Linked DNA regions of Homo sapiens: region 1 is linked to region 2. Evidence: fine-mapped expression QTL. A gene starts in region 2. The other region holds a variant in brackets. All regions are shown on one strand. Distances are from middle to middle. Region 1 has its middle 32 kb from the start of CD14. Region 2 holds the start of APBB3 (amyloid beta precursor protein binding family B member 3).

Evidence for each region. PIP is the estimated chance that this variant, and not a neighbour inherited with it, causes the effect.
Region 1: its variant is the best candidate, but not a certain one, in a credible set for the expression of APBB3 in whole blood (TOPMed, PIP 0.66).

Annotation. Positions count from the first base shown.
Region 1 is chr5:140,598,654-140,604,028 of GRCh38, forward strand. It overlaps a transcript of TMCO6 not described here. Among named protein-coding and RNA genes, the nearest start is that of CD14, 32 kb to the right of the region's middle. The variant C/G (reference allele first, on the strand shown) is at 2,586.
Region 2 is chr5:140,561,574-140,566,876 of GRCh38, forward strand. It overlaps APBB3 (amyloid beta precursor protein binding family B member 3), which reads right to left and starts at 3,025. Exons shown (of 13, transcript NM_133173.3): 1 at 2,624-3,025; 2 at 2,179-2,342; 3 at 2,021-2,097; 4 at 1,090-1,150; 5 at 780-926; 6 at 527-654; 7 at 271-276; 8 at 14-128. The coding sequence starts at 2,672. It overlaps SLC35A4 (solute carrier family 35 member A4), which reads left to right and starts at 3,255. Exons shown (of 3, transcript NM_080670.4): 1 at 3,255-3,285; 2 at 4,300-4,398; 3 at 4,992-5,303. LOC131768270 (SLC35A4 upstream open reading frame protein) reads left to right here and starts at 3,255. Exons shown (of 3, transcript NM_001394034.2): 1 at 3,255-3,285; 2 at 4,300-4,398; 3 at 4,992-5,303. The coding sequence starts at 3,271. The coding sequence ends at 5,189. MIR6831 (microRNA 6831) reads right to left here and starts at 2,178; the gene lies at 2,098-2,178. RefSeq lists enhancers at 2,183-2,242, 2,851-3,457, 3,213-3,332 and a silencer at 2,713-2,892.

The DNA.
Region 1 (5,375 bases), 37 kb after region 2:
GCCGGGTGCAGTGGCTTACGCCCGTAATCCCAGCACTTTGGGAGGCCAAGGCAGATGGATCACCTGAGGTCAAATTTTGAGACCAGCCTGGTCAACATGGTGAAACCCAGTCTCTATTAAAACTACAAAAGAATTAGTCAGGTGTGGTGGCAGGCGACTGTAATCCCAGCTACTCGGGAGGCTGAGACAGGAGAATCACTTGAACCCAGGAGGAGGAGGTAGCAGTGAGCGGAGATCACACCACTGCACTCCAGCCTGGGTGACAGACCAAGACTCCATCTCAAAAACAAAAAAACCAAAAAACCAAAGTAAGTGTCTATTCCTGTCAGACCCCATTTGTAGCCCCCAGGGCTGCCAGCATTTGTTCAATGTAATCTATCTACCAGCTATGTGTGAGGCCTTCCAACGGGGGAATGTGCCCCAGGGCCACCTGCATTCTCTGTCTCTCTTGCTGGCAGACAAAACAGTTCTTGTTGGCATTTTGTGCTTCAAAGGGTGCAAGAGGAATATGTCTAGATCTCTACATTGCCACAGTATTCTTAGGTCCACTCATTCCATGGACCCAGGTGGCCACCTCAAGTGAGCACACTGGGAAATTCACTCACTGGTGCCAATCACCTTCCAATCCAGGAAAGTGATTCTTCTATTGGGCATTGATATGTCCTACTTTAATCTATCCCTCAAATTTCCATAGTGATTTTCTTAGGGGATCCCTTTAAGAGGGCAGTTTTCTATTGCTCTTCAGCCTGACCATATGATCACGTCAGTATGCACCACCCATGAATCAGTAAAAACCCAAATGTAGTGGCAAACAGAATGCAATAGCCTATAAGGTAAGTTGTTTTTACCTTCTTAGCCTTCCAAACAAGATGCTGCACATTCACCTTGGAACTGCGATTATAAACCAAGAAGCTCTTTGCTGTTTATAGGACACTCTCCAGGTAGCAGTAGAATCTGACAGCTCCAGCCAGGTGCTGTGGCTCACGCCTATAATCCCAGCACTTTGGGAGGCCGAAGAGGGCGGATCACCTGAGGTCAGGAGTTTGAGACCAACCTGGTCAACATGGGGAAACCCCATCTCTACTAAAAATATAAAAATTAGCTGGGCATGGTGGTGCACACCTGTAATCCCAGCTAGTCGGGAGGCTGAGGCAGGAGAATCGCTGGAACCTGGGAGGCGGAGGTTACAGTGAGCAGTGAGCCAAGATCGCAACACTGCACTCCAGCCTGGGTGACAGAGCAAGGCTCCATCTCAAATAAAATATAAAATAAAATAAAATAAAATAAAATAAAATAAAATCTGGCAGCTCCTCAGGTGGTTCAAAAGTCAATTCTAGGGGAAAAAGTCTATCTGCTTGGAAATATGGTATCTCCTGGCATTCCCCCAGTGGTATGTTCCATCAGAAACAACTTCCATTTTGTTATGGAGCTCTTCCAGGCACTTCTCTCCCCATTGAATGGTTTCTCCAACATCATCCAAAATGTTATGGGTATTTTATGTTTAAGATTATTTTATATCTTTCAGTTATAGTGGAAGTTTTACTTAATGTCTGATAAGAAATAAGTAATTTCCCTGCAAATGGGAATTCTCTGGTCCAAAGTCCCAGCAGTTATTGCTGGGTGGCACTCACAGACTTTTGCCATAAGCTCCAGCCTATACTTCACACAGGGCTATTGTACAGAGAATTTTCCCTACTGGCACTTCAGCTTCTATTTTATACTGTTTGAAATTAACAATCAGTGTGACTTGGGCCATCTTATTTGTTCCCATTTTAGCACATCCAATTAATATTACCCATAGGGTGAATTTGTTTTGTTTTTTTTTTTTTTGAGACAGAGTCTTGCTCTGTCACTCAGGCTGGAGTACAGTGGCGCGATCTCGGCTCACTGCAACCTTCGCCTCCCGAGTTCAAGTGATTCTCCTGCCTCAGCCTCCTGAGTAGCAGGGTTACAGGCACCCGCCACTGTGCCCGGATAATTTTTGTATTTTTAGTAGAGACAGGGTTTCGTCATTTTGGCCAGCCTGGTCTCAAGCTCCTGACCTCATGATCCACCTGCCTCAGCCTCTCAAAAGTGCTGGGATTACAGGTGTGAACCAGTGGGCCTGGCCCCAAAGGGTGAATTTATGTGCCTTCTGTTTATAATACTAGGGAGGGGAAATGTTCCACGGTCAGATACAATATCCCCATACTACATTCAACGAAAAGAGATGCTATTCACACATACAAACTGTTCAAACATACGAATTTTAATCCAAACTTTTGTCACTTTAGTTTCATCAACCCTTGCATCCCTGACTGAAGCTTCCACTAGGACTTCACCAACAGATTTTCATTTTATAAATACTAGGTAGGGAAAGTGTGCCCCATTAAGACATAATATTCATTCTCTTAAAACATCCGTGTATAGGAGCTACAACCCCTTCACATAAATCCCATCTAAACACTCTATTTTTATCCCTTAATCCCATCCACCCTTGATTTCTATACACTTTTGTTCTAATTGTGGTCTTAGTGAGGGCTCACTAGCAGGGGACTACAGTGTATGTGGCTCCTATGTTAAGGAGTCCTAGAAATGTCCCTTTT[C/G]CACCCTGACAGTTTTTCTCACTGATGTGCATAAGGCCTTGGGTCTGCAATGGCTGTGGGGGTATGGGGTGGTGGTGGTAGTGAACCAAAGGAAGCTGACCCATTTGTCATCAATCCTTATACTGATTTGGTTATGGGACTATTGCCCCAGGTGATTCAAGGTAAGGTTTCTTGAATTCCTCCAAACAAGGTTGGATAAATCATATTTGTCCAGGGCCCTTCATGTTGGGACAACAGCAGGGGCTCCCTTTGGTCCACCTCAACCTCTCAGAGTACTGCTCTAAGACCGTTGTTTTGACCCCATTCACGTCAGCCTTATTCCATTTATTTTTTTGAGACAGAGTCTCGTTCTGTCACCCAGGCTGGGGTGCAGTGACACAATCTCAGAACTATGGTAATATAATGCTCCCTTCCTTATAAGGATGACGTAAAGCAGTGTTTCTCAAAGTGTATTCCCTGTGCCAGCAGTCTCAGCATCTCCTGATAATTGAATTAAAAGGCAGATTTCAGGCGTCACCATACCTGTTGAATCAGAAACTCTGGTTTCTGTGTTTTAAGACTTCTAGGAGATTCCAGTGGAGTCTAGACTTTGAGAACAACTGTTGATGAGATTAAGTGAGTTAATAATAAGCTTTAGGACAGTGCCTGGCACATACTAAGCAGTATATTCATGAATATTTTTAAGCGAATACAATAAAATATGGTCAACATATAGAAAGTTTAATTTAGGCAACAAGATGTTGCCCATGCTGTTCCCCCAAGAAATAAATCCTGCTTAATTCCTTGTCCAAAGGCATCAACATGGACTGCCAAACCCCTCATCATGTGGCTTCTGCCTTCCTTTCCTACTATTTCTATTCTCCATATACACTAGGTCTCCAACTTTTCTAGTACTCAGTATGAGAATTGCTTACTCACACCTCCAAGGCTTTGCCTATTCTGTTCCCTCTGCATGGTTCCTTCTCTTCCTTTTTAAAAAAGAACCTCTTTTCTCTCACTTCCTACACTTGCAATCTCCCGAATTCCTACATCTCCCTCAAAACCCAGCTCCAGTGTCACCTCTGTGATGACCTCACTGCTGTCCAGTCAGAGCCAGGCATTTGCTAGGCCTCAACACCGCCCTACACATCCCACTTATAGTACTTAGAGCAGTTTGTAACTGTTTACAGTTTCATTTCGTCTTTTTGAATTTCTTAATTGAGGTGAAATTCATGTTACATATAATTAGTCATTTTAAAGTGTGGCTGGGAGTGGTGGCTCACACCTGTAATCCCAGCACTTTTCAGAGGCTGAGGCACGTGGATCACTTGAGGTCAGGAGTTTGAGACCAGCCTAACCAACATAGCCAAACCCCATCTCTACAAAAATACAAAAAATTAGCCAGGCGTGGTGGCACACACCTATAATCCCAGCTACTTGGGAGGCTGAGGCAGGAGAATCGCTTGAACCTGGGAGGTGGAGGTTACGGTGAGCCAACATCATGCCACTGCACTCCAGCCTTGGCCATAGAGCAAAACTCTGTCTCTCTCACACACACACACAAACACACACACACAAAAAAAAAGGAAAGGAAAAAAGAAAAGAAAAATGGCCATGCGTGGTGGCTCACGCCTGTAATCCCAGCACTTTGGGAGGCCAAGGTGGGCGGATCACCTGAGGTCAGGAGTTTGAGACTAGCCTGGCCACATGGTGAAACCCCGTCTCTACTAATAATACAAAAATTAGCCAGGGTGAGCCGAGATAGTGCCGCTGCACTCCAGCCTGGGAAACAAGAGTGAAATTCTGTCTCAAAAAAAAAAAAGTGTATGATTCAGTGGTATTTAGTGTATTCGCACTGTTGTGCAACCATCACTTCTTTCTAGTTTCAAAACTTTTCCATCATGCCCAAAACACATGCCATACCCATTAAGTAATCACTTCCCATTCCTCTCTCTCCCCTCCCCAGGTGACCACTAAGCAGTTTTCTGTCTTTATGAATTTGCCTATTCTGGATATATTATATAAAAGAAGGCAAACAATAACAACATGTGACTTTCAGTGTTTGGCTTATTTTATTTTATTATTTTATTTTATTTTATTTTATTTTTGAAGCAGAGTTTCACTCCATTGCCCAGGCTGGAGTGCAGTGACGTGATCTTGGCTCACTGCAACCTGCACCTCCCAGGTTCAAGCGCTTTTCCTGCCTCAGCCTTCCAAGTAGCTGAGATTACAGGTGCTCGTCACCACACTCAGCTAATTTTTGTATTTTTAGTAGAAACAGGATTACACCATGTTGGCCAGGTTGGTCTCAAACTCCTGACCTCAGGTGATCTGCCCGCCTCGGCCTCCGAAAGTGCTGGGATCACAAGTGTGAGCCACTGTGCCTGGCCAGTGTCTGACTTCTTTTACTTAGCATTAGTTTAAAGTTCATCCAAGTTGTGGCATGTATCAATATTTGGGGTTTTTTTTTGCTGTATAATATTCCATTAAATGTTCATATCACAATTTATTTATCCATCATCTGTTGATGAGCATTTGGGTTATTTTCACCATTCGGTTATTATGAATACTGCTGCTATAAACATTTGTGTGCAAGTTTCTGTGTAGATATATGTTTTCATTTCTCTTGAGTATATACTAAGGAGTAGAATTGATGGGTCATATGGTAATTATATGTTTAACTTTTTGAGGAACTGCTAGCTGTTTCCAGAGTAGCTGCACCATTTTACTTTCCCAATAGCAAGGTATGAGAGTTCCTGTTTTTCCACATCCTCACCAACACTTGTTATTTTATTTAAAAAATTTATCATT
Region 2 (5,303 bases):
CCCTGACACTTACCTGGGCACAAAGCCCATGTAGGGCACTGGCAATGGCCTTGGCAGGGACATCACAGCAAAACACATGGCACTTGAGCATACAGCTATCTTTGTCACTTGCCACAAAAGCGAAGTCCCTAGCAGGGGCAGAGATGGGGCTGGGGTAGAAGCTGGTTAGAGGCAGGAGCCTGCAGGAGGCTGGAAAGTCAGGCTAGGGATATAGCAGGGATGGAGTAGGGACATCAGGGATGGGGCTCAGGATACCTGGTTTTCACTCACCTGTCACTGTTCCGGAAGCATGTGGGAGCACAGAAGGGAATCAGCCCAGCCTCTCGGACTCTCCCCAAACTGTCCCTGCTGAGCTGGGCCCACCCTCCCCAACCAGGGCTGGACCAGGCAGGGGAAGCAGTCCTGGGTCCACATCAGAGGATCTGTGTCCAGGGGTTCAAGTACTGGGGATCAGCATCAGTGGGGATCACAGCCTGCAGCCGGGAGGGAGAAGTAGCTCTTGCTTGGGGGATGTAGGCATCCTCACCGGCCCTTGGAGCTCCCCACGCCCCACACACGGATGTGCACCAGAGGCTGGCAGTGGATCAGACTGTGGTCCAGGGGATTCACTAGGCTCATGGCATCCTTCTTCAGGATCATCAGCATGTTCTGGCCCTGCCAAGGACAGAGGTCAGCCCAGAGCTCAGATAAAGGTCATTGCCATGAGAAATAGGAAATTCAGGGACAGCTACCTCTGCTGGGCCCTGGGCCCAAACCATTAAAGGGCCCAGCCAACTCACCTCACCCCAGGCACCATCTGGAGGCTGGCTCCGGCTGCGGGTCTGGGCCAGCTGCTGGATACAGTTATTGACTGCAATACTGCTCTTCCCCGGTGCCAGGTCCTCTTCAGGTACCTCTACCCAGCCCAGAGAGCGGACTGCAAAGCACTGACAGGTTGGGGGAAGGGACAGGAATTAATAAGGATGGAGTAGGGTGGCAGGTGCCACAATACATACTCCCTGTCTTCACCCTTGATCACCTCTGTTCAGTCCAATCCCACCCTTGTCTTTCCCTTGGGACCTCCCAATGCCCTCAGGCCCAAGTCACTACCTTAGCCCCTGGCTCCATGCTCTGGATGTAGGATTCCCCACCATACCAGGACAGAGAGTTACTGAAACAGAGCAGAGCTGTTAAGAGGACCACATTTCCTACAGTAGGGACACTGGTGAGGCCTAGACAACTTGATAAGCACAGGATGAGGGGCAAGACCCAGAATATAGCACCAGAAATATAAAACCAGAGCAGGGTAGAGCCCAGGACATATTAACGTAACATAAAGTGTGACTCAGAATTTGAGGGAAAATTCAGGACATAGGACCCAGACACAGGACATAGAATAAAAGTCACAAGGCTAGGTGCAGTGGTGGCTCACGCCTGTAATCCCAACACTTTGGGAGGCTGAGACGGGTGGATCATGAGGTCAGGATATCGAGACCATCCTGGCCAACATGGTGAAACCCCATATCTACTAAAAATACAAACATTAGCTGGGCATGGTGGCATGTGCCTGTAGTTTCAGCTACTCAGGAGGCTGAGGCAGGAGAATGACTTGAACCTGGGAGGCGGAGGTTGCAGTGAGCCAAGATCGTGCCACTGCACTCCAGCCTGGATGACAGAGTGAGACTCCATCTCAAAAAATAAAAAATAAAAGTCACAAAATAGAACAGGGTCCAATATGTGGACCAGAACCCCAAAGTGGGACAAGAGACCCTAGAACAGAGGACTTAATGGCCAAGGTCTAGAACATGATAGGTTAGGACCAAGAATATGAAAAACATGTAGCTACAAACAAGAGCTTAGAACAAGGGATAAAACTCAAAATACTGACAGTTAAGAACCTGGGACAGAGCCAAGAACGTAACAGAACCCAAAACATGTGACAGAATCCAGAACCTGGGCTGGAAAGCAGACCATGGGTCCAGCTGCATTTTTGAACACCATGGAACCCCAAGCCTTTCATTTTGCCTGGGCCACCCGTTACCTCCGGTCCAGTGAACTCTCCAGGCTGGAGAAGGATCTCCCTTTGGGGGGCCGCAGTCCCCAGATCCCCTCCGTTCCCTGTAGAGTGGGAGTTAGTCAGTTTAACAGCAGACCTAGGTCCACACATGGGCTCAGACCTCCTCCTCACACTCTACCTACCGTGCCTGGGTCCTCTGCATCTCCTAGTTCCCAGGTTGGGCGCTGCCACTGGGTGCTACCGCTGGGTACATGCCAGTAGTAAGTACCTGCAGCATCGTGGATCTTCCTCCAGCCAGGAGGCAGGCCAGCCTCCACCTCCAGACTGTGGTCCCCCCACAAGTCATCTACAGGAACACCGGATTAGAGAGGAGGGAGCATATGATTTGTGAGTTCAGAATAACATGCTGTCATAATCCCCTCTCCATCCCCAAAATGGGTCAGTTCTTAGGCTGAAGATCCAGGCTCCTCAATCTTGAAGACATCACATGTAAAGACCGGGTTCATTCGCCCCCTGGTCCCTACACAGAGAGGTATCCCCCACCGTCTTTGAGCCCCAGAGTAGCCTTTCGGATTCCCTCGTCCTCCCTCAGCTCCTGGTCTTCCCACCGGGCCCCTCCGTGCACACCATCGCAGTTGACCAGAATGATGGCCAGCATGTAATCCTTGCCCAGCATAACCCCGGCTGCTCCCCGCCAGCCTCTGCCGGCCCGCACTCTCAGCCCAGCGCGACCTCTGGAGCTACTGCGCCTGCAAGCCCAGCCTCTCTGCGCCGCAGGCTGCGGGGCCAGCTGGCGCCGCACAAATACGGGGCGGGACACGGGGCGGGACACGGGCCGGTCCCGGGGGAGGGCCTGAGCCGCACAGCCCGCCCAGGGGTGGTGCGTGTAAACGGGCGTCTGGATCCCCGAATGGTTGCGTGTTTCCGTGTGTGGGTCCGGGGGAGGCCCACGAACGCCAGCGAAACCGCTGACACCACCGCCCAACTATGAACTCATCAGGCGCCTGAAGACCGACACGCCGAACATGCGCCGCGCGCACTCGCGCACGAGTGAGATCATCGCGCCCCGGTCGTGAGTGCGCTCACACGCAGCCTGAGACTCGACGGGAGGGGGTCACGTGGAAGTATCTGAGAGAGGCGTACTTGGCCACTAGGAAAGCACCTCCCCCTTTCCAAAAATGCTCCGGAAGTGCCTTCGCCCTCCGTAAAGATGGCCGGGGCAGTCGGCACGAGGGAGGCGGGGATGCGCCTGCGCAACAAGTTCGGCGGGGAAGATGGCGGATGACAAGGTGAGTGGCCGTGGGGGTGATCTGCAGCCGGGCGTGGTCTTCACTCTCCTTGACCTTTTTAGTTCCGGGGAGAAGCGACTCTGGAGCGGCTCAGGAGTGAGGATGTCCCTTGTTTCTTCTGCGGCTCCTGTCAACTGCCTCAACAGTGTGGAGTGGTGTGGGGAGAGCATTCGGCGAGGCGGGAGGAGCCGTGGATCCCCCAGATGTCCCCTCCTGGGAACCATCACGAACCCGTTACTAGCACAGACTCAAAAACATTCACCCTTAAACACTCCTCACTTTACCCCATTCCCTAGCTCCCGAAATTTTCTTCCCAGTGACACGATGTTTCCAATCACACGGACACTCACACCACCCTCATTCAAACACTCCTTTGCATACATTCTGAATTTCATACTTATATGCGATCAAAATCACTCAGTCCATTTACTTACACACTTGCCGACAGTCTTTTTTGTCATTCTCAGTCACATCCAGTCACTCACATTCAGTTTGGGATGTCCTTGGGAAGAAAGAGGTAAAGCCCATCCAGGAACCAAGACAATAAAATTGTCCAGGAAACTGCCTCGGTCCATTACTCACCATTGGTCTAGAAGCTCAGCATTACCCACACATTTACTAAATGTCAGGCACTAGAACATAGTAGCCAAGACAGACTGGTCACGACTTTCAAGGAGCTCATAATGGAGTCAGTAGTGGTTTCCTGATGGACCTAATTAAAGGTCCCTAGCTGTCCCTCCTGCCTTTCCTACATACTGCTTGCTATATAAAATTCTTGTCAAGGTTGATGTAAGTTACTGGTTCAGATCCCATCTGTCAGTCCCTTCCTGGCCCTCATTTGAATTCTGTGCTTTTCAATGCTTGTCTTTCTTTGCCACTGCCATCTCAGGAAGCTTTTATAGGAAAAGGTCTTTCTGGCTCACCCCATCCCCTCCCAATTCCCAGCTTCTGATGGAATTGAGCAAGGGGTGGGGCTTAGTCAGACTGCTGGAGCCAGCCTCTCGCTTGTCCTAGGATTCTCTGCCTAAGCTTAAGGACCTGGCATTTCTCAAGAACCAGCTGGAAAGCCTGCAGCGGCGTGTAGAAGACGAAGTCAACAGTGGAGTGGGCCAGGTAAGGACTGTCCCACCCCACCCCTGCCTTAGGCTTTATTGCCCAACATGCTCTTGAGAGTGTTAAATGGATGGTAGAGATTTCTTCAGCAAGTGATTATTGAGGGCCTATTCTCAGTCACCCTAAGGACAATTTTTCTGAATGGCACATGAACTAATATCTTAAGTAGTGGTTAAGTAGGTGAAGAGGGGAGGAAAGAACATTCCAGGCAGAACAGCATATGTAAAGGCCTTGTGGTAGGAAGTAGCATTATAAACATGAGGGGTGAAAGGAGGTCCATTTGGCTACAGTAGTTGGGGAGCATGCTAGGAAATGAGGCTGGAGAAACCGGCAGGGCTAGGGGCATCTCTGACCTTGTGTGGCGGTGGAGTTCTATGGTTGGAGCTTTCTGACCCCAGGGTTCTGAGATTGTGTGATCAGAACTGCTTGGTTCTTTTTCTGGCCCCAGAACCTTGGGAAAAATCTGGAGAAAATACCACGGTTGTCCAGGGTGAGGAGGAGCTGGTGGTGGAATGCTCTAATCCCAGCTTGAGTAGCCCCTGGACAGTCAGGAAGGAGCCTAGCTAAGTTTCCTTCTGCATTTTTCTCTGCAGGATGGCTCGCTGTTGTCCTCCCCGTTCCTCAAGGGATTCCTGGCTGGCTATGTGGTGGCCAAACTGAGGGCATCAGCAGTATTGGGCTTTGCTGTGGGCACCTGCACTGGCATCTATGCGGCTCAGGCATATGCTGTGCCCAACGTGGAGAAGACATTAAGGGACTATTTGCAGTTGCTACGCAAGGGGCCCGACTAGCTCTAGGTGCCATGGAAGAGGCAGGATGAGCAGCTCAGCCTTCAGGTGGAGACACTTTATCTGGATTCCCCAGCTGTCATCCATTTGCTATCTCCAACTTTCCTGCCACCTTCA